7 separate regions of the Homo sapiens genome follow, and all the other regions are linked to region 4. Evidence: fine-mapped expression QTL. A gene starts in region 4. Each other region holds a variant in brackets. All regions are shown on one strand. Distances are from middle to middle.

What was found. PIP is the estimated chance that this variant, and not a neighbour inherited with it, causes the effect.
Region 1: its variant is fine-mapped to the expression of DAPK1 in whole blood (TOPMed, PIP above 0.99).
Region 2: its variant is fine-mapped to the expression of DAPK1 in monocytes after interferon gamma (Fairfax 2014, PIP 0.95).
Region 3: its variant is fine-mapped to the expression of DAPK1 in testis (GTEx, PIP above 0.99).
Region 5: its variant is fine-mapped to the expression of DAPK1 in stomach (GTEx, PIP above 0.99).
Region 6: its variant is fine-mapped to the expression of DAPK1 in whole blood (TOPMed, PIP above 0.99).
Region 7: its variant is fine-mapped to the expression of DAPK1 in whole blood (INTERVAL, PIP 0.92).

The regions. Positions count from the first base shown.
Region 1 is chr9:87,554,475-87,558,847 of GRCh38, forward strand. The region is part of intron 2 of DAPK1 (death associated protein kinase 1); the gene reads left to right. Among named protein-coding and RNA genes, the nearest start is that of DAPK1-IT1, 3.2 kb to the left of the region's middle. RefSeq lists an enhancer at 1,360-1,529. The variant G/A (reference allele first, on the strand shown) is at 2,624.
Region 2 is chr9:87,542,678-87,547,050 of GRCh38, forward strand. All of the region lies in intron 2 of DAPK1 (death associated protein kinase 1), which reads left to right. Among named protein-coding and RNA genes, the nearest start is that of DAPK1-IT1, 8.6 kb to the right of the region's middle. The variant A/G (reference allele first, on the strand shown) is at 2,418.
Region 3 is chr9:87,601,401-87,605,773 of GRCh38, forward strand. It overlaps DAPK1 (death associated protein kinase 1), which reads left to right. Exons shown (of 26, transcript NM_004938.4): 3 at 3,554-3,775. Among named protein-coding and RNA genes, the nearest start is that of DAPK1-IT1, 50 kb to the left of the region's middle. RefSeq lists enhancers at 3,968-4,017, 4,068-4,127. The variant A/G (reference allele first, on the strand shown) is at 2,032.
Region 4 is chr9:87,495,263-87,499,635 of GRCh38, forward strand. DAPK1 (death associated protein kinase 1) reads left to right here and starts at 2,605. Exons shown (of 26, transcript NM_004938.4): 1 at 2,605-2,845; 2 at 3,708-3,877. The coding sequence starts at 3,816. RefSeq lists silencers at 2,254-2,313, 2,334-2,683, 3,054-3,243, 3,454-3,563 and an enhancer at 2,954-3,711.
Region 5 is chr9:87,442,287-87,446,659 of GRCh38, forward strand. No RefSeq gene overlaps it. Among named protein-coding and RNA genes, the nearest start is that of DAPK1, 53 kb to the right of the region's middle. The variant T/G (reference allele first, on the strand shown) is at 2,042.
Region 6 is chr9:87,612,211-87,616,583 of GRCh38, forward strand. All of the region lies in intron 3 of DAPK1 (death associated protein kinase 1), which reads left to right. Among named protein-coding and RNA genes, the nearest start is that of DAPK1-IT1, 61 kb to the left of the region's middle. The variant G/A (reference allele first, on the strand shown) is at 2,417.
Region 7 is chr9:87,520,050-87,524,422 of GRCh38, forward strand. The region is part of intron 2 of DAPK1 (death associated protein kinase 1); the gene reads left to right. Among named protein-coding and RNA genes, the nearest start is that of DAPK1, 24 kb to the left of the region's middle. The variant A/T (reference allele first, on the strand shown) is at 1,696.

The DNA.
Region 1 (4,373 bases), 59 kb after region 4:
AGGAAATTCAGTTTAAAGAATTTTTACCTCCGGACATAACAGTGACTATGCTGGAACTCTGTCTTTGACTCAAGCCAGAAGATGGATGGGACCACCCTTAGGAGCCTTCCACAGGAAGGCCCTCTCCACAGTAGGACTTAGGGCGCTCATGTAGATCCCTCGGCAGTAATGCGCTAGTTGCTCCTATAGTCAGGAGGCATCTAGGGAGATCGCTGATCTCCATGGCAACCTGGACCCAAATGAGCAAAGTGCCATCAGCTGGCCTCGGCCTGACTGCTCTGGCGGGAGGGAGGAAGCTGATGCTGTCTCCCACCCAGGCCGTGTAGCCATTTCCCCCACCCCCACCGGAGGTCTGAGAGTGTCAGGGCTTCTGCCCTTGGCTTCAGCCAGTTCTCCTGGAGGTCATTAAAGGGAAGCCCTTCTGGTGGCAAGTTCTCTGCCACAATCTACAGTGAGAATCTAATGATGGTATCAGTTGTAGAGGCCCCTTGATCTCTGGAGAGGGTTCTTAGTGCCAAGGAACTTTCTAGAACCATGGAGGAACCCTGCAGGGACCTCTGAAGAGTCCTGAGCAAAGAAGTGGGGAAAGCTGTGTGGGTGTGCACCAGGGTCTCATCACCCTGCCCTCAAGGGCAGCCTCAGTATTATGACTTAAGGACTTGGGGGTTTACATAACATCCCTTTTTGTCAGCAAAGGAAGTTCCTTATTTCTAAACCTCATGGTCCCAGAAAACCCAGTTCCTGATCTAGCTGTCCCGTTAGGGCATTTCCATAATACAGCACGTTCTTAAGCAGACATTAAGTCAGACAATTAGGTCCCAGCTAAGCCTTGTCTTGACCTCTTAAGCAACATATCTGCCCTCCCTTTTGCCTTCTCTCTTTTCCTTCTCTGTCACAGACACAAGGACTAGATGAGAATGACACCCTGGGGCTATCTGATATACTTCCTCAAGAAGTATTAGTAACACAAACAACAACAGAAAAAACAAAGTGAAATTTATTTATCATGAAGCACTTTATTTTATTTAGTTATTTTTTTTTTTTTTGAGATGGAGTTTCGCTCTTGTTACCCAGGCTGGAGTGCAATGGTGTGATCTCGGCTCACTGCAACCTCTGCCTCCCGGGTTCAAGCAATTTTCCTGCCTCAGCCTCCCGAGTAGCTGGGATTACAGGCATGCGCCACCACGCCCAGCTAATTTTGTATTTTTAGTAGAGACAGGGTTTCTCCATGTTGGTCAGGCTGGTCTCGAACTCCCGACCTCAGGTGATCTGCCTGCCTTGGCCTCCCAAAGTGCTGGGATTACAGGCGTAAGCCACTGCAGCCAGAAGCACTTTAAAGCTTATCGTTAAGAACAAATATGCAGTCATGCAAGAGCACACTGTTAACAAATTACCGGCTAACTAAAAGCTAGGCGAGTTCCATATCAATATGATTAAACAATTGCATGGGAAAATTATTATTTAGAGGAATGGAAGTAGTCACTAGTACGTGTTGTCAGTAGCTTCTGTTTTATTCCTAAAAAGACGAATGAGAAAATGAGGTATTATGAAGGAAGAAGCAAGAGTAAATGCCACCATGGTAATTACTGCCCGGGGCATATGAAGAACTGTTTTTTTGTATTCTAATCTCCGTCACCGAAACTCATCAGTGATGCAGGACCCAAAAATAGAAGGACATTTTGGGTGGACATGTAGTTAATAATGACTTATGCAGCCCAGCACCTGTGTGGGCTGGCATTGTTCTAAGTGCTTTTTCCTGTGTTACCTCATTTAATCTTCACAACAGCGCTGTGAGGTTGGTACAAGTATTATGTTGATTTTATGGAGGAGGAAACAGGTGCAGAGAGGCAAGGTACTTTGCCCAAGCTTCCTTTGTCAAAGCTCACAGAGCTGGGGAGGGTGCCCACGTGTGTGTACCTGTACCCACTGTGCATGCTGCCCGTCACGGGCAAAGGGGCTTCCTTTTGCTGTCTTTGAATCATGGATTTATTCAGTGTCATGGGAAGCCATGCATGGGTTAGTATTCTGGCCACATCAGTGAATGCTACAGCCTGGCCCCATCATGCTAATGTCAGGAGGAGTGCGGGGGATTGGCAGAGCATGGGGAGGATGGCGGTCTCCTGCTGAAACTCTGTGGAGTAGCCTCAGCTACCCTTTCACAGAGCAGGGTTTGGTCTCTGAAAGGTGAGGTCTTTCACTTGTGATCATGGTACAAGGCTGTGGTACTTCTCGCTCCAGGAGCTCGCTGGAGAACATATCGAGGCCTGTGTGGCTCCTCAGCCCATACCCTCAGGAGAAGGAATGCTCTCCTCAGGTTTGGAATTGCTTTTCTTGGTCCTTGTTTCTAGTAGGGAGTGAGAATAGACATGAGTTGTGCCTGCTGGGCAGAGCCTTTGCAGGCCAGGCCTCCTGGGCTGCCTTGGGCGTGTTCCTTGAAGAGCCAGTCCTGCAGTTGTGGGTGGGAGAGGAGCTTCTCTGAGATGTGTTATCAGGAACCTTGGCGGAGGTGGGCAGTTGACCTTCGGCTTTCCCCTTGGCCTCTAGGGATTCATATCTCATAAAGAACAGAAAAGAGGAAGGCAGCCTGGCCCTTCCCCTCACCCTTCCCTCTTGGCGGTGTTGC[G/A]GGAAGGGAGGAGCAACTCTTCCTCAACATCCTCGAAGCTCAGTGTCTGGCATTGTAAGGCCAGTGGTTTTCAAACCTCTGGGCTCAGAACCTTTGTTCAAAGCAAGTGTTACCTGGCAGCCACACATCCATCCAGGCAGCCCCATGAGGAATGCTCAGATCCATCTGAGAAGAGTCTGGAAACCCACATCTTCATTTCCCACCATGGCCCTGTCAGGGGAGACCCTTTGTCCTGTACCTTCCTGTCGTGTTCTTTCTACGTTTCACCCACTGCCTTCCTCGTCCTTCCAAATTAGATTATTAATCTCATGAAGAAAATACAGCTTTCTTCCTGTGATTCAAAACATCTTTTGTGAGCTCTAAAACCATGCCGATTAAGGAATTATGAATTTAAAATAATATTAAATGGTCAGTAGCTTTTATTGACAAATGATCTTGGGACAAAGCCATTAGATTTTTTTTCTATCTCTTACAGAACCCCCCTCCTGTTAAAACATTACTCATTGAGAAGTGATCCATTAAAAGAAAAATGTGTTGGATTTTAAAAAATACCTAATCCTTGGCAGGGCGCGGTAGCTTATGCTTATAATCACAGCACTTTGGGAGGCCAAGGTGGGTGGATCACTTGAGGTCAGGAGTTCGAGAACAGCCTGGCCAACATGGTGAAACCTCGTCTTTACTAAAATTACATAAATTAGCTCGGTGTGGTGGCATGCACCTGTAGTCCCAGCTACTTGAGAGGCTGAGGCTTGAGAATCACCTGAACCTGGGAGGCGGAGGTTGCAGTGAGCTGAGATGATGACATTGCACTCCAGCCTGGGTGACAGAGTGAGACTCCGTCTGAAGACAAACAAACAAAAAACAAAAACCGAATCCTTTAGCCAGGCGTGTCTCTTGTTGGATAAGTCAGTTTGGAATCTTTTGGATGTTTTCCTTCTTTTACTTGCTCAGCCATAATAAATCTTTCATTTTAATTTTGATCAGCAGCATTGTGAGGTCCTGCCCAGTGTGGTAATGGGCAGTTAGCTTGTCACAGTCCTGTCATCTTGCCAGCCCCTTGAGAGCTGCCAGAAGCTTGTGGTCTGTCTGGTTTCACATGGTGGTCATGGACTCTCTTAGGGACTCACATGTTACTGCACAGTGGGTATGCATCTTGGCCTGTCAGCACCTCTCCCTGAAGCATCCCAGGAGCTATTTACCAAAATGGATCATGCTCTTTTGTCAAGAGCAGGCCACTGGACTGCATTGCACCCCTGAGGATATACCCACAGATCAACGGGACAGAATAAATAAAGCAAGATGAAAAAGAATGAAGGGATCTAGTCGAATAAGCTTTGCAACTAAAAATCTTCCATGAATACAGGATCTCAGAATCACTTGATAATATGCTCCACATACATAAGTACACATATGCACACACACACAGCCGTGTGAGTACAGATACACAAGCTGTAAGGTGGTCATTGCACACCAACGTCCCTTTCGACGAAAACGAACAATTCCTCGATACTAGCTGGTCTCTTGGTTTCTGCTGTTTGTGACTTGTCATTGCAGGGAAGGGCTGTGATGGAGGGAGTTTTTGTTGACTTGGTAGTTCCTGTCTGCAGACCCCTTCATTGCTTCATTGGATTCCTTGGACAGCCTGCTATAGCCACATGGGGGCTCAGTTAGAGCCTGCTCTGTGAGCTGCATCTACCCATTTGGGCTCCCACGTGCAGAAAGCATGATTCCCATGCTCCATGTGGGCGGA
Region 2 (4,373 bases), 47 kb after region 4:
TGAAGAAGCTGTGGCTGAGTGGCTCAGTTACCTAAAGACAAACGGCCAGTGAGAAGGGGAAACTCAAGTCTGTCTGAGTCCGAGATTAATGCCTTTGCCATTGCCCAGAGATCTGTCTGGCTTTGGAGTCAATATGGAACCCCTCACTGGGCCTTCAGCAATGGGATGCCCACATGCATGCCTCACACTCCCCAGGACAGAGTTCATGGACATGCATGAAATGGCATCACGATCATAAATAGATGTTCTGGTAACTTGGCTCATAGGTAGCATGTCTTTTTACCATTAATTAGCGTACTATAGACTGCATGGGTGACATTAGAAAACAAATTTTTATTGCTTTTGCAATGAAGTTTGGGGACATTTTATAAGAATTATTTTAATAAGTAGGGATTTAAAATATGGGACATGTTGTATAGAGCAAGTTAGAGAATGTTAAAATAAAAGAACATATAAAAATGCTACTTAAAGTTTCACATTTATGTGCAAAACAACATGTAATTCTTGGTCGGGGCTGTGATAGTTCTGCTTAAGAATGTCTAAAACAGATGATCTGATAAGAAAATTGCTCTTACCACAGTAGAGGAGAAAAGGCAAGAAGGAGACCTTCACACAAAAACAAAATTATAATAGCCTCCTTAATGGGCCTATGTCTGAGTTTCAGTGCTTATCACTTACAAATGAACACTTTTCATAGACATAATTTCCATTGCCTAATAATAGTTGAATATGACTATGAATCATTTTGAGTGCAGTTTCTTTAAAATACATTGTTAATAAATGTTCTCTGAAGAGGTAGATAGGTGGATTCTTATGTAGTTAGTAAAAACAACACAATCAGCCAAAATGACTCAGGATTATTTTTTCATTTCATGGAACCTTCTGCAAATTAATATTTGTCCTTATCTGAGGTTTTTCTAAATAGTTGCTTTATTAAGCATTGCATTGTTTGGCAGTACAGTTTGTGAGCTGGATAAGGTAATAAAAACTTGGGAAAAATGTAAAAGACTCACTTTTTAAATATCTACATTAAATGCATTATCTTTGCTATGTTTGAGTGATCTCTTATGGTTCTGTAAGATGGACCATTTTGTTGCATCCTCAAAAAGTGTAAGAGAAGAGGGTTTTGTTTTTTCTTTTTTGTTTTTGTAGTCTTGTGTGTTTGGATTTTGTTTATTATAGTATTATGCTATAGTTTTAAGGATTGAGGACTCAGAAGATTTCATGTGGCCTTAATTAGCAGTCTGTCATATTTAAAAACAAACATGTTGAAATAATAAAGGTAGAAATTGTAAATATATAATCCTCTGGAAGGCAGGGATTCAATCTATGAAATTATTTCAGTTAACGTTTCAGAAGAGGAACACACATGAATAAGTATATAAATATGTTAGCTTAACTTTAACAAATTATACAAGCAACATAATTCATTATCTAAATTTTAGAAAAATGAGAAATCACCCATCACTGCACTAACTCAAATCTCTGTCATGAGTTTTAGTTAATAAGTGTTTTCTGACAATGACAAATTTTCATACATGAATAAGTATATAAATATGTTAGCTTAACTTTTACAAATTGTACAAGCAACATAATTCATTATCTAAATTTTAGAAACATGAGAAAAATCACCCATAACTCCACTCACTCAAATCTCTGTCATGAGTTTCAGTTAATAAATGCTTTTTGACAATGACAAATTTTCATTTTTAGATATTGCATGGATGAACAGGGAAAAATGTTATAGATATGGTGAAGAATATATAGTACATGAGAATATATGTGAGTGTGTATGTGTGTATGCATGCATACATACACACTTGTGTACATTAATGTATGTACACGTAAATATGCATATAAGTATACACATACACCAGAAAATTTTTCTAATGTTCCTTGCAAACACAATATGCAGCTTTCTGAAAATTATTATTTTTGTGATATTTTTAGTGGCTGTAACATTTATTTTTGGTAGCTGGCTTTGGGTGGTCCCTACAGTCCTTTTTCTCGGGCTCTTACTGGTGAGATGGATTATGCATGTAAGACTTCAAACTGGGAACAAGGGACAGCTGGAAAACGATCATTTTAAAAGGCATGTTTAAGACGGACATAAAGCTAATTTTCCTACGAGTACCCAAAATGCAGGAAGAAAGACATTTTGCTAGAGGATGAAATTGAACAGTGAAGATTTTAATTTGGTCCCATTCCCTACCCCAGCAAGGTGAGGTAGGGACACAGCTCTGCTTCCATGCACCTTTGCAGCCCAGTCCCCACCCTCTCACAGACAAGGCCACTCTGGACCTGAGGACAGGCCCATCTTCAGTACTGTTGGTGGTTGTCCCCACACAATCTAGGTTACTTTCGGAATTTGATGGATGGCTTTTCAAATTTGCCTTCCTATCTGGAAGATTATCATC[A/G]GCTATCCCTGCACTTTGCAGCAAGTACAAAACTCCTGAAGAGCAGAGGCTGTCAGACCAGCTGCCAAAGTGCTTAACACCTTTTATTCAGAAAATCTGAGGCCTCCACTTGACTGATCTCCCCAATTCTCCTTGCAAACCAGGCTCCCGGGTGCAGGGTTAGGAAGTGCGTAATGAGCTTTAGAAAGGGTTCCTGAACCAACAGCTAAACTGTTGTTAATCTCAGCTCTGGCAGTTACTTGGGATGAAGAGATCGTAATGGCTGCTTTAATTAAAATACACATAATACTAGAGGATCAGTAGACCACAAGCAAGAACTCTAAGTAATTCATTAGTTTCAATTTTAGGCGAACATGGAAGGTACTAGAAGAAAATAGGCAAACTAGACAGACATCAGTCAGAATGCTTAGGCTTGCCTCGGCTGGTGAGCCTCGGTGAGGCATTTCAGCTTTAAAAAAAATTTTTTTTTGAGATGGAGTTTTGCTCTTGTCACCCAGGCTGGAGTGCAATAGCGGGATCTTGGCTCACTGCAACCTCTGCCTCCCGGGTTCCAGCGATTCTCCTGTCCAGCCTCCCAAGTAGCTGGGATTACAGGCATGCACCACCACACCTGGCTAATTTTGTATTTTTAGTAGAGAAGGGGTTTCACCATGTTGGTCAGGCTGGTCTCGAACTCCTGACCTCAGGTGATCCACCCGCCTCAGCCTCCCAAAGTGCTGGGATTACAGGTGTGAGCCACCACACCTGGCCACATTTCAGCCTTAAAATAAAGGGGTTCATCTGATTGTCTCATCAGTTCCATAAGATGCTATATTTCAGTGATTGCTCATGATTCTGTAAGACCATTTTGTTGCATCCTCAGAAAGTGTAAAAGAAGAGGGTTTGTTTTTTGTTTTTGTTTTTGCAGTACAGATTCTCAGTACTTCCCATAGCATAGAGGGTTGAGTCATAGAGTCCAGCCAGCTCCTTGGCTGGGAAGTTGATTTTCAGTTAAATAAACTTGAGCTTTCCTGTGGTGAGATTGGGTGGTGGTGGAGCAAAACCATTTTAAAATGTAGGTTTTATTCAGATATGGTGAAGCTTACAGATCTGGGAGATGACCGTCAATGAAAAGATCTCACAGTTCCCAAGAGGAGGAGCATCCCATGTGATGCAAGGCCCCAAGAAGCAGCAGGGTCCGTCAGGAGGCAGTGGGAGTGAGGGGAAAACGAGAGCAAGAGCCTCTACTGTGGTTTCTGCAGAAAGGAATGGACAGGATTTAGGGCTGGCTAGTTTGGGGAATTTCAGCAGGCTCTGGGAGGTAGATACTGTCCCTGGTTGCCTGGCATCTGACCCTTGGTTGGTTAAGGCAGAATTGTGGCCCATAGGAGGTAGGGGTGGGTGGTCTGAGCTCTGAATTGGTTGGGTCTGCATAGGAAAGATGGGCAGGTGAGTTTACAGTTTCTAGGAATCCACTAGTTCTGGGAGGGGCAGTGCCTCCAGGGTCAACAAGGCCTCAATGCTAAAGCATCAAACATGCAGAAAACAGAGATGTGGGATCAATCCAGAGACAGCATGTTGGCTTTGGGTGACAAGACGAATGAGCCTTTCTCTGTCTTTCCCCATCCTCTCTCTACCCAGCTCTCTTTTCTCTCTTGTATTCCGTTCTCCCTCCTTTCCATCTCATCTCTTTGTTTTCCCTACCTGTTCTTTTAACAGAGGACTCCGATGACGTTAGAAGAGGCTGCACTGCCTAGAGCAATCTGCATTCCATATTAGCTTTATAAAGAAAAAAAAAATCAGCCTGGTACAGTGACTCATGCCTGTAGTCCCAGCACTTTGGGAGGCTGAGGTGGGTGGATCTCTTGAGTTCAGGAGTTCAAAATCTGCCTGGGCCATATGGCAAAACCCCGTCTCTACAAAATACACAAAAATTAGCCGGGTGTGTTGGCATGCGCCTATAGTCCCAGCTGCTCA
Region 3 (4,373 bases), 110 kb after region 4:
TAAGTGGCAACACACCCTCTGGGTGGGGACAGGCAGCAAAAGGAGGAAGGGAGTGAGGATTTAGCAATAGTTGTATACATCGTTAGCACAGGACAGCCCTGTCATGGGCTTTTTTTTTTTTGTCCTATGAGGGCTCTTTTCTCTCTGGCAGTCATGAGAGGTAGGTACTTGGGGGGTAATACTGCATCACTGTGAGACTGGGGCAACAGTGTGCTGATGAAAATAACTCCAGTTGTCGCAGATTAATAATAGCTAACAGTTACTGAAGACTCCCTATGGTCAGGTGCTGTCCTAAACACTTCATGCGCTCATTTCATCCTACTCCCTCCAAGACAGGCACTTATTATGCCCACTCTACAGATAAGAAAACTGAGGCCTAGAGTGGCTAAGTCCTAAATAAACCTTGGGTTACACAGCTGGCTTCTAGCCGTTACACAATTCTGTTGAACTATAATGCAGAACACTTTGTCTAACTCCTCGGGTTCTCAGGGTTATAGATTCAGGCGTCAGCTGCAGCATATGTGCATTGTGCATGGACTACATGAAGTAGGTCTGCACCCAGGGCCTCAGGAGATGTGAAGATGAGCCTGGCAGCCCTTTGTCCCCCAGGCATTGGCAGTCTGGGAGGGTGGGAAAGGCAAGAATGGGCAGAAAACAGCAGGTGCCCCTGAGGGGTATGGGGTGCTCTTTCGACTCAGGGATATGGCAGATTGGAGGAAAGGGAATAGATTGTTAGGGGTGTCAGGGAAGAATAGGGAACGGTATCTTAAAAGAGGTGACATTGCAGTAGGTCTAGAACAAGTTTCCCAAGCTCATTCTAGACCCTCATTTTACTCTCTGCAGTCAGGGTTAGCCAGTACCCCAGCATCCACACAGAGCCTTCCTACCCACCAGCTCTTATCCCCTCCTCACCAGCCAGCACTTTTCGTATGGGGACCCTGCAGTGTGAGTGAGGGATCCATTGTCAGGTGACAGAGTCCATTCCCCAGGTTTTGCTGTAAACGAAGGCACCACAGTTCCCTCGGGCATGAGCACACATGACATTCAGCACCTGCCTTCATCCTGCCATCAGGGCTAACCTGCCTTTACTTACCATCTTCCCATAAATAAAATGGAGAAACTTCCAATATAGAACATTTGGAGGTGAAAACGCACGTGGAACAGTTTTTGTATCTAGGCTTGCATTGAAATTCTCTGTGACTCTCCTGCCAGAAGGATTTTCTTTTTTCTTTTTTTTTTCTTTTTCCCCCTGAGACGGAGTTTTGCTCTGTCACCCAGGCTGGAGTGCAGTGGCACAATCTCGGCTCACTGCAAGCTCCACCTCCCAGGTTCAAGCAATTCTCCTGCCTCAGCCTCCTGAGTAGCTGAGATTACAGGCACGCGCCACCACACCTGGCTAATTTTTGTATTTTTAGTAGAGACGGGGTTTCACCATGTTGGCCAGGCTGGTCTCGAACTCCTGACCTCATGATCCACCCACCTCGGCCTCCCAAAGCGGTTTTTCTTTCTCTGTCTCTCTGTTTCTCTCTCTCTCTCTCTCTCTCTCTCAGCTTTTTAGTTTTGAATTTTAAAGCACCATGATTGAAACTACTGAGTGTGCCTTGAGTTGGAAGTCTCTGAGACAAGTTGCTTTGGCCATGTGTGAGGTATGAATGGGCCCAGCCTCTGGAACTGTCAGCTTGGTTGTTGGTTGGCTGGGCTGGGCTGGGCCTCCCTATCCTGGGTCCTTTTGAATCTGCCTGGTGGGGACACAATAACATCTTTGTAAGGAGGGGCCTGGACTCTAAAGGAAGCAGCTGACTGTGTTTTGAATTCAAGCTCTTTTCCCTCTTCTCTCCGTATGCCCCATCTCTGCCACCCTCCGCCCCACAATAGAGGGAAGGTTTTTACTCCTCAGAGAAATTGGATTTTGGTTGTAATGAAGTCATTACATAGACCCCGTAATTGTTTAAGGTAGCGAGTTTACAGGCAGTCGGTGCTGGCATTCCAGTGTGATTTATTCTTCAGCTTCTCAGCTATCCTGCTGCAGGG[A/G]CAAAGCGGGTATTAACAACCTGTCATGCAAAAAATTTGACACGGCTATAAAGATAATCCTTCTCTCTGTGTTCCTTCTTCACTGGCCTCCTACTGCTAAAGTAAATGAGTAACGTTTTAAAGTATCCATTCTTTAACATCAAAATATTATCCTTAATTTGCTTTTCTCTCTGGCTTTTGTCTTCGTGTGAGGATAAAGCCAGCTAAAAATACCTGTGATAATTCTTTACATAGCAGTTATCCAGCAGGTACCAAGAAACATACAGATCCTGTGATGGGTGAATCGACCCTTCCTTGGGCACTAGGGAAGAACGAAGGGCACCAGCATGGGGCCGGGAGGGTCTTTCCGTTGTGTTCCGCTGACTATCAGTGGGGCCTGTGTACCTCTCACCGTCTCACGCACTTACTGCCTACCCCTTATTATTTTGAGTCAAGTTCTATTATTACAGTCTTTAATATATGGGAAAGGGAATCTGGTTATTTGCTGTGATGTTTAAGGTGCTTTCCTCTGCAAGAAGTAGAAAACCCATCAAACTGACTTGAGCCATAAAAGGAATTTATTGGCTTATGTCGCTGAAACATCACAGGCAGATGGTTTCAGGCCGGGGCTGATCCAGTGACTCCATGGTGTCACTGCAGACCTGGTTTCTTTCCTTTTACTGGCTCTGCTTCTGCAGTGGTTGTCTTCAAACTAAGAGTGGCTCTCCTCATGGTCCCAAGACAGTTGGCAGCGGCTTTGAGGGGGGGGTTCTGTCACACTCAAAAGAGAAAAGAGTCTCAGAAAGCCTGTGTCTCTGCATCCTCTGAAGGGTCTTACTTGGCATTGTGGTCAGGAGAATGGAGTGGACTGATTGGCTCAGCCTAGGTCACATGATCCGTATTTACAGTTGGGGGTGGAATCGGCTTCCCCAAAACCACAAAGATCCCTGGGTAGAAATACCTTGAGACGGGAGGAGAGGGGAGATAATGCTGGAGAAGTGACCAACAAATATTTGGTACATATGACTTATCAGTCGCTTAATTATAAACAAAATAATAGACCTTTTTCTGTTCTGTGTATTTAAATTGGTTAATATTGGTGCTAGAAATATGTTGTTGAAGGCAGGACTTCATATATATTTTTTTTTACCGATTCCCTGGTCTCAATCCCTCGTTTTTCAGGCTCAGAGACTAGACGTGCAGGAAAAGAGTTTGCTGGAAGTGAGGTCAGATCACAGAGCTCCTTGCTGCTGTCCCAGGACCTGAAGTGGGAGGGAAGGAGGAGAGGACAGAAATGGAGACATGATCACTCTTTCAATAAAATATACTTTAAAAGTTTATATTCCTTGCAGCATTATTTATAAAGAAACAGGCTTAGTGTAAATGAATGATGATAAGAAACATCCCTACCTAATTTGTTACTTTCCACAATTGGAACTTTCCTATTCACAGTTCTCTTGTCCCCCTCTGCACCATGCCACATCCTCACTCAAATCCTGTTTTTTTTATGAACGATAAAGAATCCTCCATCTTCTCTTTTCAGTGGACAGTTTGCGGTTGTGAAGAAATGCCGTGAGAAAAGCACCGGCCTCCAGTATGCCGCCAAATTCATCAAGAAAAGGAGGACTAAGTCCAGCCGGCGGGGTGTGAGCCGCGAGGACATCGAGCGGGAGGTCAGCATCCTGAAGGAGATCCAGCACCCCAATGTCATCACCCTGCACGAGGTCTATGAGAACAAGACGGACGTCATCCTGATCTTGGAACTGTGAGTGCCGCCTGGGCCAGGCTGGGGAGAGGGTGTGGTGGGCGTCAGCTGGCATCTTCGTTCCAGCTGGACCACGCCACAGCGAGCCCGAGAGAGGGATCAGGAATTGGTTCTGCTGTATGAGGTGTGTGAGAACAATGCCGTGCTGCCTGACCTGAAACCCAGCTGCAGGGATCTAGAACAAACTCTAAAGAGCAACTCCCATCACTGTGGTTCCACCCAGTTTGCAAGAGGGTCTCCCAGTCTTGCGGTTCACCACTTTCTGGGGTTCATCTTTGCCGTGAGCACATCTGTTTTCTGAGTTTCCTGTTAAGCTTCAAGCATATGTCCTTCTCCCCTCTCACTCTATTCCTTTCCTCTCTCTGTTTGTTTTTCTGCCTTTCTTCCTCTGTTCTCTTTATCTCTTCCCCCATCTCTTCCCCCTCCATCTTAAATGCACGAACCCCATTTTTAACTGTTAATTCCATCAACACTAATTATATGAATGGGTAAAATTGAGCCAGAATCACTCAAAAAGGACTTGTTTTTAAAGCAAGTTGCTGATTTTCTCAGGCAAGCCATGCCCGTCGGATGTTATTATGGGAAACTGATTGCGGCA
Region 4 (4,373 bases):
AGATAGGGTTGGTGAATATTTATTGAGAGGGGAATTAGACTCCACCTCTTGATTGGGGGAGTGTCAAAGAATTTGTGAATATGTTTTTAAATGACCACATTTCCCCTTTCTAAAATGCTTGTCTAAATTGGTGTACACAAAAAGCTCGGGGGTTAGTGACTCATCCAAGGTTATTAAGCTGTTAAATGGTTCCACCAATACTAGATCTAATTTTGTGACTCCAAATTTCATGCTCTTTTTCACTACTCCAGATAATCTCCGGTGAACATCATTGTCCATTAGGGTAGTTAAGACATTCTAGCTGCCAAATAGATTCAGTCCTTTTAATTGCCTCGGACAATATATTTTTTATTTTGCAGAAAATAAATATTACCCATATGGCAGTCATCCATAAACACCTTCCAAGTTTATCCCAAACATCTGTGTTTTAAATTTTTTCTCCCAACAGATGTATTCATTTGCATTTTCCCAGATGAATCACTCTTTTTTTGTTGTTGTTGTTATTTTTGACTGTATTTCTCACCTCTCAAGACCCTTTTGTATTATCAAGCCCACTGCTTAAGCTAATACCATCTCCCAATTTGGGGACTTCCCCTTGATTCCTGTGTGCCCTTCCTGTGGGTCATTAATGCAATGTTATTTAAGACTAGGATTTGGCTGGGCGCAGTGGCTCACGCCTGTAATCCCAGCACTGTGGGAGGCCGAGCCGGGAGGATCACCTGAGGTCAGGAGTTCAAGACCAGCCTGACCAACATGGTGAAACCACGTCTCTACTAAAAATACAAAATTAGCCGGGCATAGTCACATGCCTGTAATCCCAGCTACTGGGTAGCCTGAGGCAGGAGAATCGCTTGAACCCGGGAGGCGGAGGCGGAGTTTGCAGTGAGCCAAGATTTCACAACTGCACTCCAGTCTGGGCCACAAGAGCGAAAACCCGTCTCAAAAAAAAAAAAAAGACTAGGATTTGACATAAGGCCTGAGGGGTATTCTTTTGTTTTGTTTTGCCTTGTTTTCAAGAGGCCAAAATCTTCACAGTTGAAAATTTCTGTTGAACCACAGAGATTTGAACCAACTCAGTTTAGAAAGCCTGGGGATTTGAACAACGGTATGGATCGGAAATCTCTTCATCTGTCAGTTTTCATCATTCTAGGCAGTAAAATAGATTTCCCTTTAGGAGCTTTTCACCGTTTGGGGTTCTCCAGCAGTGGGATGTGGGGAATCAACCCTTCTTCGTCTCCACCCAAACATTAGGTGGGAGCAAGGGGTGGGAAGTAGAGAAAGTGGATAGAGGTCTCCAGTGGATATGGGATCTTTGTGTAGACCAGCACAGTCCTCAGAAATCTCATGCAAGCAACATAGGTACTGTTATATTTTCTAGTGGCCACCTTTTAAAAAGTAAACAGGTGAGGCCGGGCGCGGTGGCTCACGCCTGTAATCCCAGCACTTTGGGAGGCCCAGGCGGGCGGATCACGAGGTCAAGAGATGGAGACCATCCTGGTCGACACGGTGAAACCCCGTCTCTACTAAAAATACAAAAATTAGCTGGGCATGGTGACGCGCGACTGTAGTCCTAGCTACTGGGGAGGCCGAGGCAGGAGAATCACTTGAACCCTGGAGGTGGAGGTTGCCACGCTCCACTACACTCCAGCCTGGCGACAGAGTGAGACTCCGTCTCAAAAAAAAGAAAGTAAACAGGTGAAATTAATTTTAATAATATATTTTGTTTAACCCAACGTATCCAAAATACTATCATTTGAAAGTGTAATGAATATAAAAATATTCATGAGATATTTTTCATTCTCATATCCATACTGTCTTGGACTCTAATGTGTATTTTACACTTACAGCACAATTAATTTGGGACTAGCTACATTTCAGCTCAACAATAGCCAATAGCATATGGGATAGCGCAAATAAACTCTGCGTCTCTGTTGCTTCTTTGGGTCTCGGAGACCTCAACCCTTTCTTCAGATTGCAAACCTTCTTGCCTTCAAGCCTCGGCTCCAACACCAGTCCGGCAGAGGAACCCAGTCTAATGAGGTACGCTCCCTTCCTGCCATTCTCTATTCCATTAACCTGTTTCGTGGTAAACGTAGGACTGATCCTCCAAAATTACCTTATTAATTAGCTTACATATTTATTATCTATCTGTCCCACCAGAATGCAGGTTTCCGGAAGGCAGGGATTTAAAAAAATCTGTTTTGTTCTATGTGATTTTCCCATACCAAGCACCGTGCCCGGCACAAGCTGGGATCCCAGTACACATCTCGGGACGGAAGAACCGTGTTTCCCTAGAACCCAGTCAGAGGGCAGCTTAGCAATGTGTCACAGGTGGGGCGCCCGCGTTCCGGGCGGACGCACTGGCTCCCCGGCCGGCGTGGGTGTGGGGCGAGTGGGTGTGTGCGGGGTGTGCGCGGTAGAGCGCGCCAGCGAGCCCGGAGCGCGGAGCTGGGAGGAGCAGCGAGCGCCGCGCAGAACCCGCAGCGCCGGCCTGGCAGGGCAGCTCGGAGGTGGGTGGGCCGCGCCGCCAGCCCGCTTGCAGGGTCCCCATTGGCCGCCTGCCGGCCGCCCTCCGCCCAAAAGGCGGCAAGGAGCCGAGAGGCTGCTTCGGAGTGTGAGGAGGACAGCCGGACCGAGCCAACGCCGGGGACTTTGTTCCCTCCGCGGAGGGGACTCGGCAACTCGCAGCGGCAGGGTCTGGGGCCGGCGCCTGGGAGGGATCTGCGCCCCCCACTCACTCCCTAGCTGTGTTCCCGCCGCCGCCCCGGCTAGTCTCCGGCGCTGGCGCCTATGGTCGGCCTCCGACAGCGCTCCGGAGGGACCGGGGGAGCTCCCAGGCGCCCGGGTGAGTAGCCAGGCGCGGCTCCCCGGTCCCCCCGACCCCCGGCGCCAGCTTTTGCTTTCCCAGCCAGGGCGCGGTGGGGTTTGTCCGGGCAGTGCCTCGAGCAACTGGGAAGGCCAAGGCGGAGGGAAACTTGGCTTCGGGGAGAAGTGCGATCGCAGCCGGGAGGCTTCCCCAGCCCCGCGGGCCGGGTGAGAACAGGTGGCGCCGGCCCGACCAGGCGCTTTGTGTCGGGGCGCGAGGATCTGGAGCGAACTGCTGCGCCTCGGTGGGCCGCTCCCTTCCCTCCCTTGCTCCCCCGGGCGGCCGCACGCCGGGTCGGCCGGGTAACGGAGAGGGAGTCGCCAGGAATGTGGCTCTGGGGACTGCCTCGCTCGGGGAAGGGGAGAGGGTGGCCACGGTGTTAGGAGAGGCGCGGGAGCCGAGAGGTGGCGCGGGGGTGCCACCGTTGCCGCAGGCTGGAGAGAGATTGCTCCCAGTGAGGCGCGTACCGTCTGGGCGAGGGCTTCATTCTTCCGCGGCGTCCCTGGAGGTGGGAAAGCTGGGTGGGCATGTGTGCAGAGAAAGGGGAGGCGGGGAGGCCAGTCACTTCCGGAGCCGGTTCTGATCCCAACAGACCGCCCAGCGTTTGGGGACGCCGACCTCGGGGTGCCGTGGTGCCCGGCCCCACGCGCGCGCGGGGCTGAGGGGTCGGGGGCGTCCCTGGCCGCCCAGCTTTAACAAAGGGTGCTCCTCTCCACCCCGCGAGGAGGGGCAGCTCCGGAGACCCGGTCTTCAGCGAGCGGGGTCTTAGCGCCGGGGAGGTCTACTTCCTTTTGGGGTTGCCATTTTACTATTATTATTGCCTTTTTTTTTTCTTCAAAAGGACTGGAGACTGATGCATGAGGGGGCTACGGAGGCGCAGGAGCGGTGGTGATGGTCTGGGAAGCGGAGCTGAAGTGCCCTGGGCTTTGGTGAGGCGTGACAGTTTATCATGACCGTGTTCAGGCAGGAAAACGTGGATGATTACTACGACACCGGCGAGGAACTTGGCAGGTAAAGGGGGTACCAGAAGCGTACCCTCCTGGATTGTGGAAATGCATAACGATGGGGCCATTGGGTGGTAAACAAATGCAGTTTGAATCAGGCGTCTCCCTCGCCCTTTCTGGAGATGCGCAAATCATAGAGAAAAGAGTTACTAACCCAGCGGTAAACCGCCTGATCCAAGGGCCTGGGGGTGGAGGAGAGGCAGCAGTTCAGGGCTAGATTATGATGCACAGTATATTGATCCAGTCCCCTGGACAAAATCAGATTTAATTGTCCGTGCTAACTCTTGTCAGCCCTTGCCCTTCTGTGACAACAGGACAAACACTAAGATTATAATTGCAATTGGAGTTAGCTTTTATGTGTGATTTAAACGGAGGGTACAAACTAATTAATAGGTTTTAAAAATCTTAGTACTTTACCCTCTATCTAAATTTTCAGTGTAATTTGAGCAAGTATTGGTAGGTGGTAAATGGAGACTTGCCAGATGTTGACATTGGGCTTGGAT
Region 5 (4,373 bases), 53 kb before region 4:
CCTTTGCCTTCAGCAAGCACCTCTTGGTCATGGTTCTTTACCTGGTGAGGTGACCCAAACCATCATTCCTACAGAGTCTGGGCCATTTTATAGTCCTGCTTAGATTGGGTTCTTGTAATTTCCAGTTGACCTTAATCATGGACGTGGTAATACTAAGAGATGCCCTAAGGGATCTTCTGTATTCTAGACATACTCTTCCTTACCTCTATTGTGGTGTAGTAGTAGAATTTTCCCTTGGTAGTCAAGATCAACATGCCAGCCAACACCATAATTCCCTTCCTGGCCTGATGACCCAGAGGCATGAAGAACCCAAAGCAGTCGGGTGGCAGTCTTAACTTCCAGTTCAACGGACTCATTGTTGTGTCTCCTGAAGGAAGCATTCTTTTCTCTGGAACTAAGGCCTCTAGGCCAGCAAGGCACAAAGTCATGGGAACAGGAAGCAAATATTTTGCTAGTGGGTCACTAGGGGTGATGGTAAGTGGTGCCACTTCCACTTCTGCCCCTTGATTCCTAGACCCATGAATGCTTGCTATGGGAGAAAGAGAACCATATATTAGATGCTGATTCAGAGCATATACAGCATTCTAGAAAACCTTGCCCCAGCCCTGCAAAGTATTGTTACCCATCCGGCACTGTAACTGTAGCTTCACAAGGCCATTCATAGTTCTACTGGCCAAATGCTTCAGGATGGTGGGGAACATGATAGGACCAGTGAATTTCATGAGTCTGAGCCCATTGTCACACTTCTTTGATTTTGAAGTGAGTTTCTTGGTCAGAACAATGTTGTGCTGAATACCATGGTGGTGGATAAGATGTTCTGTAAGTCCACAGATGGTAGTTTTGGCAGAAACCTTGTTAGCAAGAAAGGTAAATCCAAATCCAGAGTAAGTGTTTATTCCAGTAATGACAAAACATTGCCCTTTCCATGATGGAAATGCTCCAGCGTAATCAACCTGCCACCAGGTAGCTGGCTGATCACCCCAGGGAATGGTGCCATATTGGGGCTCAGTATTGGTCTCTGCTGCCAGGTCAGCTTTGAGGAGTGGAAGTCCATGTCTCTCAGCCCATACATAACCTCCATCTCTGCCACTATGGCCATTGTGTTCACGAGCCAATTAAGCTATTGCAGGGGGGTCTGGTGAAGGATGCTTACTGGTATTTACAGAATGGGTCATCCTATTCACTTGATTATTAAAGCCCTCCTCTGCTGAGGTCACCGTTTGGTGAGCATTCAGATGGGACACAAATATCTTTGCATCCTTCGCCCACTCAGAAAGCTCTATCCACATACCTCTTCTCCCATTTTCTTTTGCTACAAATTTTCTAATAATGTTCTCTCCAATTCCCTCACCATCTGGCCAAACCATTGGCTACAGCCCATGAATCAGTGTGTAATCATATATCTGGTCATTTCTCCTTTCAAGCAAAGTGAACCGCCTGCAGTTCTGCCCATTGTGAAGATTTTCTTTCATTATTGTCTTTAAGGATGTCCTAGAAGAAAGCCAAAGTGCTACAGCTCTTTCCTTTTGCACAATTTAGGTGCCTGTTTATTGTGCAGACTCCTCCATAAGGCCCTAGTCTTCTTTTCCTCTGTCAACTGAGCCTAGGGAACTCAAGTACCAATAGTACTGCTGAATTATATAGCCTAAAATTAACCATCACAGGCCAGGCACGGTGGCTCATGCCAGTAATCCCAGCACTTTGGGAGGCTAAGGCGGGCGGATCACCTGAGGTTGGAAGTTCAAGACCAGCCTGACCAACATGGAGAAACCCTGTCTCTACTAAAAATACAAAATTAGCCGGGTGTGGTGGCCCATGCCTGTAATCCCAACTACTCGGGAGGCTGAGGCAGGAGAATTGCTTGAACCCGGGAGGTGGAGGTTGCAGAGAGCCAAGATCACACCATTGTACTTCAGCCTGGACAACAAGAGCAAAACTTGGTCTCAAAAAAAAAAAAATTAACAATCACACAGCCCAAATTCCTTTTCCTTTGTGTTATCACAATTTATTACCCTTTGTTAAAATGTCATAACCACTTCTT[T/G]GGGGGATTTTTATTTCTTTTCTGTAAAGCCTGCCCTCCTCCATGTGCATGAAAAATAAACCTTTCCTCTTGTTTATTGGTCTTTGTCAGTTTAATATAAAGGACCCAGCGACAAACTTGAGGGTAGAGGGAAAGTTTTTTTCTTTCCTGCACAAGATAGCCACCCAAGTTAGAATTAGGGTTCAAGGAAAAATCTGATTCAGCAAAGTACAGAATCCCCTCAGGCAGCTCCAACAAACACCCCCATTATCAGAGGAGGAGCTCCTCAGTTACACAGCTCTGTGATTCAGTTACTGATGCAGAATTCCAGAATTCCATCTTCTAGCAGGCATGGCTTCCCTGGTCAGGCAAATGGTGGTTGTTGGGGGGAGGCATTCTCAAACTAACTCTCCATTTTTTATTTTTGGGACTAGTCTGAAGCATTAAAACAAAAACTATTCCACATTAATCAGAAATGTCCAAAAACTGTAGTCTCAACACTGAATGCCCATCAGGATGAACTGGGGTGCTTTTTCAAAATGCATATGATTACAATACAACCTTGGAGATTATAATGGAGTCCAGATATATGAATAGCCATGTGCCATATAATGACATTTTGAGCAGTGATAGACTGCATATATGATGGTAGTCCTATAAAATTATAATGGGGCTGCCCTATAATTTTTTTGGTCTTTTATACCATATTTTTACTGTTCCTTTTCTCTGTTTATGTATGTTTAGCCACACAAATACTTACTATTGTGTCACAATTGCCTACAATGTTCAATATAGTCCCATGTTACACAGGTTTGTAATGCAGGTGTGTAGCAGGCTATACCATCTAGGTTTGTGTAAGTACATTCCATGATGTTCACACAATGACAAAATTGCCTAACGACGCATTTCTCAGAACCTATGTTTGTCATTAAGCCACATGTGACGGTATTTTGGAAAGAGGTATGTTTTGATTCTCAAGTAAAGCCAGGGTTAAAACTCACTGACTTGGAAACTGGAGCAGCTTGAAGACTGGAGGTGAGGAGGCTCTGTTAGATCCAGCTCTGAAAAATCAATGGAGAGCCGAGGGGAGGCCAGCAAGTCTGTGGGACCCTGGGGAGGAGGTGACATCCAGTGTGGCCTTCCATGTGCAAAGTGTAGTTGCCTCATAATGTCTCTTCTCCTTCAGATTACCGCAAATACCTGAAATTATGCTATTAAAAGTTCATCCATACAGTAACCCTTTCATAACAAATATTAAACCCTCATAGACTCTAACATGTTAGCTTCTTCCCACTCCTCCACCAAAAAAAATTTAAGAGCTGGGAATCATAGACAGGCCAGGAAACTTCTGATAATAGAGCAGGGAGAGACATGAAAGACTGCAGGGGGGTGGGATGGTCTGTGGCAGAGACCACCAGCTGCCTCTGCAATATTCATTTTCCCTTCTTCCTCCCTAACGAACTGAATGACACCTCAGGCAGCCACAGCCTCGTTAAGACTACATTTCCCAGAAGGCCATGCTCCTCAGGGTGGCCAATGAGATGTCAATAGAAGTGTTGTTTCCACGCTACTTCCTTAAAGGGGACTGACAGTTGAGAAGGGTACTCCTCTGCTCTTCCACTTTCCCTTCTAGATTCCACAGGGAAATTCGGAGTTAGTGGGTCAAGCACCAGATGCCATCTGCAACCATGAGAAGACTGTAGGAAGGTTGTGGAAGAGAAGGAATAACGAAGCCCAGCTTGCTGATCAGAACTTCAGCTGCCTGATCTCAGCCCTAGGCTCTCTGCCTCCAGATCTTTCCTATACCAAAGGAAAAACAACCTCTATTTTGTTTAAATTGCATAATGGGGTTTCCAGCTATGTGCAACCAAGATTAATTCTGGAGGAAGAATCTGGAGTATAGCCCTATGCCCAAAGAGGTCATTTTCAGGAGAGACTCTCAAGAGGAAGGCTCTGAAATGTCTTTATCTGTGATATGGTTTGGCTGTGTCCCCACCCAAATCTCATCTTGAATTGTAACTCCCACAATTCCCACCTGTCATGAAAGGAACCCGGTGGGAGATGATTGAATTATGGGGGGAGGTCTTTCCTGCGCTGTTCTCGTGATAGTGAATGAGTCTCAGGAGATATGATGGTTTTAAAAAGAGGAGTTCCCCTTCCCAAGTCTCTCTCTTCACCTGCTGCCATTCACTTAAGATGTGACTTGCTCCTCCTTGCCTTCCGCCATGATTGTAAGGCCTCCCCAGCCATGTGGAACTGTAAGTCCATTAAACCTCTTTCTTTTGTAAATTGCCTGGTCTCGGGCATGTCTTTACAAGCAGTGTGAAAACGGACTAATACAATGTGTTAAAAA
Region 6 (4,373 bases), 120 kb after region 4:
AGTTTTGGAGAGGACAAACATTCAAACCGTAGCACCATAGTATCTCAGAACATGACCTTTTTGGATATGAGATTGTTTTAGATGTAATTAGTTAAGATGAGGTCATACTGGAATAGCACAGAGAACCTAATCTGATAGGACTGGTGTCCTTATAAGAAGGCCCTGTGGAGACAGAGGAATGGAGTGAAGCATCTATACGCCAAGGAACCTGCCAGAAACTAGGACAGAGGCATGGAGCAGATTCATCCTCAGATCCCTTAGAAGGACCATCCCTACCAACGTACTGAGTTAGGACTGCCAGCCCCCAAAACTATGTGATAGCAGGTTGTTGTTTTAAACCACCCCATGTGTGGTCCTTTGTTAGGGCAGGCCTAGGAAACTAACACAGAGGCACCAGTTAACAGAAACTAGATTTCCTGGACTGGGAGCCTACTCGCATGTTGATCTAAAATTCTATAAGCAAGTTAGAAACAAAACAAAACATAATGCCTAATTATGGTAATGCCATCAGGTAACTGCAAAATGACGCAATACATACATCTCACTCCCTGCAGATAGCCTGAGCAGAGAAGGATTGGAGCGGGGGTGGGGGTTTGGAGTCTAACATAAGATAAGGAAGAAATGGACATCACCAGGTTCTGGCCTGCTTCAGGATGGTCACCTGAGTAGCTCTGGATCACATGTCTGAAAGGTTACCATGTTAAGAATTATAAAGTAAAAGTGCTAAGATGGCCAAGTAAGTATTGGCATGGTGGATTGTTCCAGAGAAATCAAGCCAGTTTGGTTCTCCAATCCTAAATGTCTCCCCTTATTTGTTCTGCTTCCATTTCGAAGCACATCTTTAAAACAGAGTAACCCCATTTAGCTTTCTCTCTCTTTCTTTGTGACAGGAAATTCCATTTAATTAGTGCAGTCTGCTATGGTTGTAGCCAAGTGCAGGGCGTGGAGTGAATAATGCATTTTTTATATTTAAAAAGGTAAATTTTGCTGATTTTTTTAATCATGGTAAAACAACATACAGTTTACCATCTTAACCATTTTTAAGTGCACAGTACAGCAGTGTTAATTCTATGCATATTGTTGTGCAACAGATTTCTAGAACCTTTTCGTCTTGCAAAACTGAAATGCTGTGCCTATTGAACAACTCCTTTTTAGCTCTGTGTTTTACTTTGGCTAAGTTAATAATTTCTGGAATTCAGTTTGCCCATCACAAACAACTGCTAAGTTGTATTCAAACATTTGTGCAATATTAGGTCACTTTATGTAGGATCACGGTTCAGTTGGCTCACTCTCTCATAACCAAACTGAGATGCAAAATAATCAGAATACAAATACAACTTTGTTTTTCATTGTATGTCAGCGTGGTGCATGTATGTAGACGAACACATGGTGCCTTGGTCAGCAAGATCAGAATCGCAAGAGCCTTTGAAGAAACACATGCAGTGATTAAAGTGATAGTTTCAAAGGATCTTAAAAGTGGCAAAAATTGTACAGAGCTGAATGTGGTGGTCGGGACTTAGGGAAGCTGATAAATGGGGTGTGTGGCACAGAGCCCTTCAGTCTCCCTGTCTCTGCTTCTCTCTGGGCGCTCACGAACCACAATAGCACACACTCAGACTTCCTCAATGCGTTCTTTTGCTGCCACATTTGTTCTCTCTTTTCTGAGCTCGAGCCAGCTCTTTTGACTTTTTGAACTTTTGTCTTTATTCACAAAGGTAATTTCAAGAGCTCTTGTGGGTTCCACTTCTGGCATCCCGCTCCTCAGATACCTACTATTAGGCAAGAGCAGAGAAGTAAAGTGCATTTGGCAGCAGTCTCTGCCTTTCAAAGCAGAGCTAAATCATGTAAAATAGGTTATTTTCCATCCAGGCATTCTCTTGAGAAAGAAAACCCTGTGTGTGTCTTCCCCCATACTCTCACTTCTTGCCAGTTCAGTTGAAAAGTGTTCCCTTAATGTTATTAAATAGGTATTTTCACTCACTGAAGTGGATTATTTGATTTCTGCACGGTCTTAAGAAAAAGTGAGACAATAGGAGTCTTACAAACAAACCCTATGTGGTATCTGTGAGCTCATAGATCTGTAGTTTTTAGGATATAGTCATAACTTTAGTATCTGCCATGATGTTCTCCATGCTGAATACATGAGCTATAAGTAATATTTGGAATCTCTGTTTATCTCCAAGAAAGACCCATGATCGTGGTTAAAGTTTGGGAAACTGAGGCAATGCTGCTTAGTCACAGCTCCAGGCAGGTGACTATTCTTAGACTCCTTCCCAGGGACTAGACTCTTCTGCATCACTCTCTGGGGTGGTGCAGGTCCTGCAAATTGTTCATACTTCCTCTTAGAAACTCTCCCTGATCTCATATCTTCTTCTTCCTGTTTTGGCCAACTGCTTCCCCAACCTGCACATCAAGC[G/A]GGTGTAATGGAAGAGAACTTTGTGGAATTGCGGCTTTAGCTGTCCCCTCACAGGTACTGGTTTTGCCTCTTGCCCAGTTCCCTCTCTTCGCTGCTCCAGTATGTTCCCCATCCTTGTCGTGGGCTCCCCGGCACTGTGGCTGCCGCCATCCTGGCCAGGCAGCTGCCTCTCTCCACCCAGAGCCAAGTCCCTTCCAGGCCCTGGGACTGCCTGTTTGGTGGTCAGGCTCCACTCAAACCTTCCATTTGGCTTTCCCCCACTCTGGTCATACGGAGTCCACATCCAGGTCTTGCTGTGCCCAGAATTCTGGGATGGTGACTGGAGTGAGGGTTGGAGACAGGCAGCCGGGGATGGTTCGTCTCCAGCTGGTACTCCAAGACGGAGAGTGCCTAGGCCACAGGTCATGAGAGCATTGCTTTATTAGATCAGTATCTGCAAGCAGGTCAGTGACAGTCTTCCCAAGACGTCCTTGAGCCCCTCAGAGCATCCCCTTCTGCCTCACGTCCTTGCAAAATGTGGTTTAACAAGCAAATACTTCCAAGAACAACCTCATACTGCTTTTTCCTCCTAATTTGTATTTCCAGATAACCAAGTATTACCTCACCTTCTTCTATTTAACAACTCTTTATTTCCCTGTGTGTAACTTGTTTTTAATATTGTCAAAATTACTGCAATGCAAATGAGGAACATCAGGGATCCAGCGGGACCGCTGGGAATATGTGCTTGTTCCGTGTTGAAATGTCAGTTTCATTTCCAGCCTCTGAATGAAGGCAGTGACCGAGCATGGCTACTGTGAGATGCAAACACTATTCAATTAACAGAGTTACATAGAAATGGGCTCAAGGACCTGGTCTTCCCTGGACGACAGAAGTGTCATTGACGTTTCCCCTAATATTTTGATAGGAAAATTCAAGTAGAGTTGATTATTTCAAAAATGTAGGGTAGAACGTTCACTACTTTTAAGGCACTTGCACTTAGGCATGGGTCTTCCCAAACTGCCTGAAGAGAGGATATGGTTAAACAACTGAGTGGCTTTCCTTGGAGGAAAAGGGAAACTGCCCTTCACTTTACCTTTCTGAGTCAGCCACAGTGGGCGCCTCCCTGAAATGATCTCATTTAATCCTTGCGTGCAACTCTAGGAGAGTGGTGTTACCACCCTGCAGGTAAGGAACGCTGTGCCCCCTCTGTCCACATATAGGTCACAGGAGCCGGTAGAGAGATGCTCATTCTCAGACAGTAGCCTCTTGGAGAGAGAATTCTTTTGTTTGAGTTTTCTAAGCCCTAGGATTCTGCTAAGCCACTGTAGGATTTTGCCTGCAAGGCCCCATTGTCTGTGGGCTGGTTGGCCAGCTTTGCTCTTCCTTCTTGAGAGTGACTTTCACATTCCAGTGGTTCTGGAGACACATTTGCTCCTCCTCCATTTGAAAGCAGTGATTTAGAAGCTTTTGAAAGCCAACCTGGCCTCCCAGGGCCCCTCACCTTTCTGCTTCCTTCTCTAGCGTGGCTGCATTGTTCTTGCCCCTCATTTCTTAGCATTTCCATGAAGTTGGGGGTGGGCAGAAGATGTTCTAGTTTTCCAGTGGGATTGCTGAAGCCTAGGAGTGGGATGGCTTCATGGGGGCTCTGGTGTGATAGTGGCATGTGCCTATATGCCCCTTGCATATGTTTCTTTGAGGGCAAGACTACGTCCTACTCTGGCACCCACAGCACTGAAGACTGTGCTTGGCCCAATACATGGATGTCAAGTCCAGATAGAGCAGGAAGAACAGCAGGATCTGAAAAAGAGTCACGTGTGGCTCAAGAACCAGTTAGTTGACCAGGGAGAAGGACAGTTTTGGGGGGAAACGTTGATTTACTTGCATGAGCTTCAGAAAACTCTTGACTGAGTTTCCTAAAGAGCAAAGTACCCCATCCTCTTGAGTATCAGGGTTTGGGTCAGTTTGGGTCCTACCAGGA
Region 7 (4,373 bases), 25 kb after region 4:
AAAGGAAGAAGGAAGTCTTAATATAGAATTGACTTCTTCCCAGGTAAGTTTTAATTGCTTCTCATGCTTGTAGAAAGGTGTATCATGTGTTCTAATAGGTTAGGATTTAATTATGGCTTAAAATTAGTTCTATAGGAAGAGCTTGGAGTTGCACCTAGGGAGAAGAAGCAGAGGGTTCCAGAATTGTGTAAACGGATTGATGGAAAAATAGGCTTCTGGTGCTGAGGGTTCAGGAGCCTTGCCAGCATCACAACAAGGTGTGAATTAGCCTCCTCGCACTCTGGGAGGAAGTGGAGGAACTGCTGGGGTGTGAGGCTGTGAAAGGACCTTGGAGAGCCAAGTCCTCCCTGTTCAGACAGGGACAGGCACAGCTGGAGACAGCAGTTTTCAGCTCTGTGGAACTCTTGTTCTCTGGGTTGCACTTCTTCCTGTGATAATAAAGAGGTTGAAGACAGGAAGACAGGTGCTTGAAAGCCGGAAGACAAGGGGAAAGTTGTTTGAAGCAGGTGTTTAAAAATCCGCCACTTTGGGGGGATGAATTAGGATATCGGTAACAATTTTATAGCCTATATGGTTTCTTTTTGACCCTCGAAGATAGGTGGGAAGTGGTTTTCTATACTTCTTTTAAAAACTGGGAAACCAGAGCTTAAAGAAGTTAAGCTTGAGGCAGCAGAGTTCAATGCACTGGTGAATTGAAATGTTTGTGTGTGTATACATACATACCTGTGTGCGTACATACATAGGTATATATACATACTCAGTATAAATATACATGCACATATATCTATACATGTACTGATACAAAGGGTATATAATACAATTTACAACTAATAACAAACTATGTGCACTCTTTATTATAAATTCCATTCAGCCAATGTAGGCTCACAGAATGCTTTTATTGATTTTTACTGTGGCCAACCTATGACTGACAATGGTTTGACAGAGTTGCATTCCAATTCACTAGTTTTTTACCTAGTAAATTTATTACCATTAAATCTAATATGTGATCTACTGTTAGACTATTTCTCACCTTGTACAAATTATGTTCCTTAAGCTGAGCTTCATTTTGGCTTCAGCACTGCTGATTGCAATAGTGCTAGCTATGTTTTAAGCTTTTGGTGTTGTTGCAGGGGTTGAAGCATTGTTGGATTCTGTATCACCTAAGGGTGTCTGTGTTTAGCAACCAGGTCATGAAATTCCTGAAAAATGAACAGTTGTCTCTTGTGAGCCAGCACAGGCAGGCTGGAGCACATCACTAGCTCCATTGTCAAGGTCTGGAAAGGCAGGTGCTTGTCTGTCTTATTCAGTCTTTAGCCCCAGACCCAGGGAGGTGCTGAATGTATGATTAGAGATTCAGTGAATATTGGTGAGATGGATGAATGAGGTTTCAAAGCTGGGACCAGGAGCCAGTCCATGGGACTCCAGTTCTTATCCCATGAGGACAAGGTCCAGGGTGGGCATTGAAGAATCACAGGAAAGGAGGGGCACCAGAGACCGTCTCCACTGTCAGAACTCAGCTGCCATGTCCTGCCTTCCGCTAGGATGTCAGCACTGGGGCACTGTGGTACAAAGAAGAGGAGAAGGATGACATCTCATTTAGTGTACTTTTTTTCCAGCTTTATCCAATCTTTTGGCAATTTTATTCCCCATCATTTAGGAAAGAGAAGACCTTCTTATCTAGCAGTTTGATGACTT[A/T]TGGTAGTTGCTTTGGTTTGAATATTTATCCCCTCAAAACTCATGTTCAAACTTAATCTCCAGTATGGCAGTGTTGAGAGGTGAGGCTTTTAAGAGGTGATTGGGAAGGCAGAGCCTTCATGAATGGATTAATTCATACGTGGGTTAGTGGATGAAAGGGCTAATGGATTAATGCGTTATCGTGGGAGTGCCACTGGTGGCTTTATAAGAGGAAGAGAGGCCCAAGCATATTTAGTGAGCATTTTCTTGCCCTCTTGCCATGCGATGCCCTCTGCCACGTTTTGATGCAGCAAGAAGATGCTCACCAGGTGCCAGCGCCATGCTCTTAGACTTCCCAGCCTCCAGGACCACGAGCTGAATAAATTGCTTTTATTTATAAATTGCCCATTCTGCAACAGAAAATGGACTAAGACAGTAGTCACCAACAATACTTAACTAGAATGGCCAGTTATGGAGAACAAGAGTTATATTTTTTTTCTCAGACAGGTCCCTTTACATCTTTTAAAATGAAATATGTAATACATTCACACAGTTCGAAAGTCAAAGACAGTATCTTGCCCTCCAGTGACTAGTTCCTTCTAGTGAGTCTTGAGATCATTCCATATATATTCTATGTGTATTTAAGACAATAAACATAAATTTTTTCATGTTTTTACTGAAATCGTAGCATGTTATACACATTGTTCTGCCTTTGGCTTTTTTGTTTTTTCACCTCATAGCATAACTTGAAAATCATTCCATTACTACATAGGAAGACATGCCTTTTTCTTCTCTATGATTTACTGTCATTTATTTAACCCTTTCTGTCTGTGAACTTCTAGGATTCTTTTCTAATTTTTCTATTATAAGCAATTCTGCAATGATTGCTGATGTACAAAATGTTGAAGCTATCTGTAGGTAAATTCCTAGAAGTGGAATTGCTGGATGAAAGAGAACATGCATCTGTCATTCTTGTATGTGTTACCAAGTTACTCTTCATAGACCGTAAGTCAGTTTTCAGCCCAACTACAAGAGAAAGCTGGCTGGCTTCTTTCGCTGTCTCACAGCTGCTTGATTCTTGCTACTTTGATAAGTGTAGTTTCATCAATTTTTAAGTATGAATAAGTGTAAGCATGTTTTCAAGTATGTTTAAGAACTATTTGTCTCTGCTTTGAACTTTCTATTCATACTCTTTGCCCATTTTTCTCTACGTTTGTAGACTTTTATTAATTTGTAGGAGCTCTTTATCTATTAAATAGCTTTATGTTCATGTTATGATTTGCACATCTTTTCTCTAGGTTGTCATTTGTCTTTTGGCATTGTTTCTGGTACTTTTCTCCCCATGATTTTTTTTTGTGTTGTGATAAAATGTGAAACTTGTCATTTTAACTATTTTTAAGTGCACATTCAGTGGCGTTAAGTCCATTCACATTGGTTGTGCAGCCATCACCACTATCCATCTCCAGAAGTCTTTCACCGTCCCAGACAGCTGTATTTTTTAAAATAGTCGGATTTATCAAATTCGTTTAATCTTTTATGGGTTTTGTATCACAGTTAGAAAGGCCCTTACCGCTCTGAGTTTATTTGTTTTGAGACAGGGTCTCATTCTGTTGCCCAGGCTGGAGTGCAGTGGCACAATCATGGCTCACTGCAGCCTCGACCTCCTGGGCTTAAAAGATCTTTCCACCTCAGCCTCCTGAGTAGCTGGGACCATAGACACGAGCCACAACACCCAACTGATTTTTTAAAAATTTATTGTAGAGAAGAGGTTTTGCCATGTTGCTGAGGCTGGTCTCAAACTCTTGGGCTCCAGCGATCTGCCTACCTTGACCTCCCAAAGTGTTGGGATTACAGATGTGAGCCACCGTGCCCAGCCCACTTTAAATTCATTTTTAAAATATTCTCTCATAATTTCTTCTAGTACTTTGATGGCTTATTATGTATGTTTAAGTCTGTGATTTGCCTGGAATTTATTTTCGTGTGAAGTGTGAAGTATGGCTCCAGGCGTAGTTTTTCCAGAGCCCCTCAGTTACCATTTGCTCATCAAAACATGGTTTGAGGGCTGGCTGGATTCAACCAGGGAGATTTCCTGCACTGTTGGTAGCTGTAGGGAATCAGCAAAGCTGCTGTTTCCAGGAGCTCTTGTGAGCTGGGGAGTGAAGAGCTTCAGAAATGAAGCTTGAGCTAGACTGATGAAATCCCACTCTAGGAAAATACAAGCCTTACGGTGTTTATGTTTGCTATATTCAGAATCACAGGCATGCTAGTGAGTGCACTGTCTAAACATGTTGAAAGATGGTCTGCAGTATCTCTACTCAGCGAGGTGGATGAAACAGGTACAGCCCATGAGAGGCAAGTTAGTGTCTTGGATAAGGCGTTCCTGGTGGATGAGCCATTTGTGCCCCGATAGAGGTTCTTACAGAGGAGGGGCTGGAGTCCACTGATGCTCTGGGCCTCTCCCTGGGGGAAGGGGTGCCTGTTTCTCTTGGCCCAAAGGCCCTGCACATTCCAGCATGCCCTGACCTTGGAACTGTTCCTCAGGTCTCTGGGCCCACTGCATCTCTCCTCCCACAGCTGGACCTGAGAGTCAGGGAGCACCTCTTGTATGCCAGCCATGCTGGGTCTGGGACCCCCTCACCCTCAGGGCCCTCAGGTGGTTCCCTCAGGCTGCAGCGGACATAGAGATCAGTTCTGTGTGT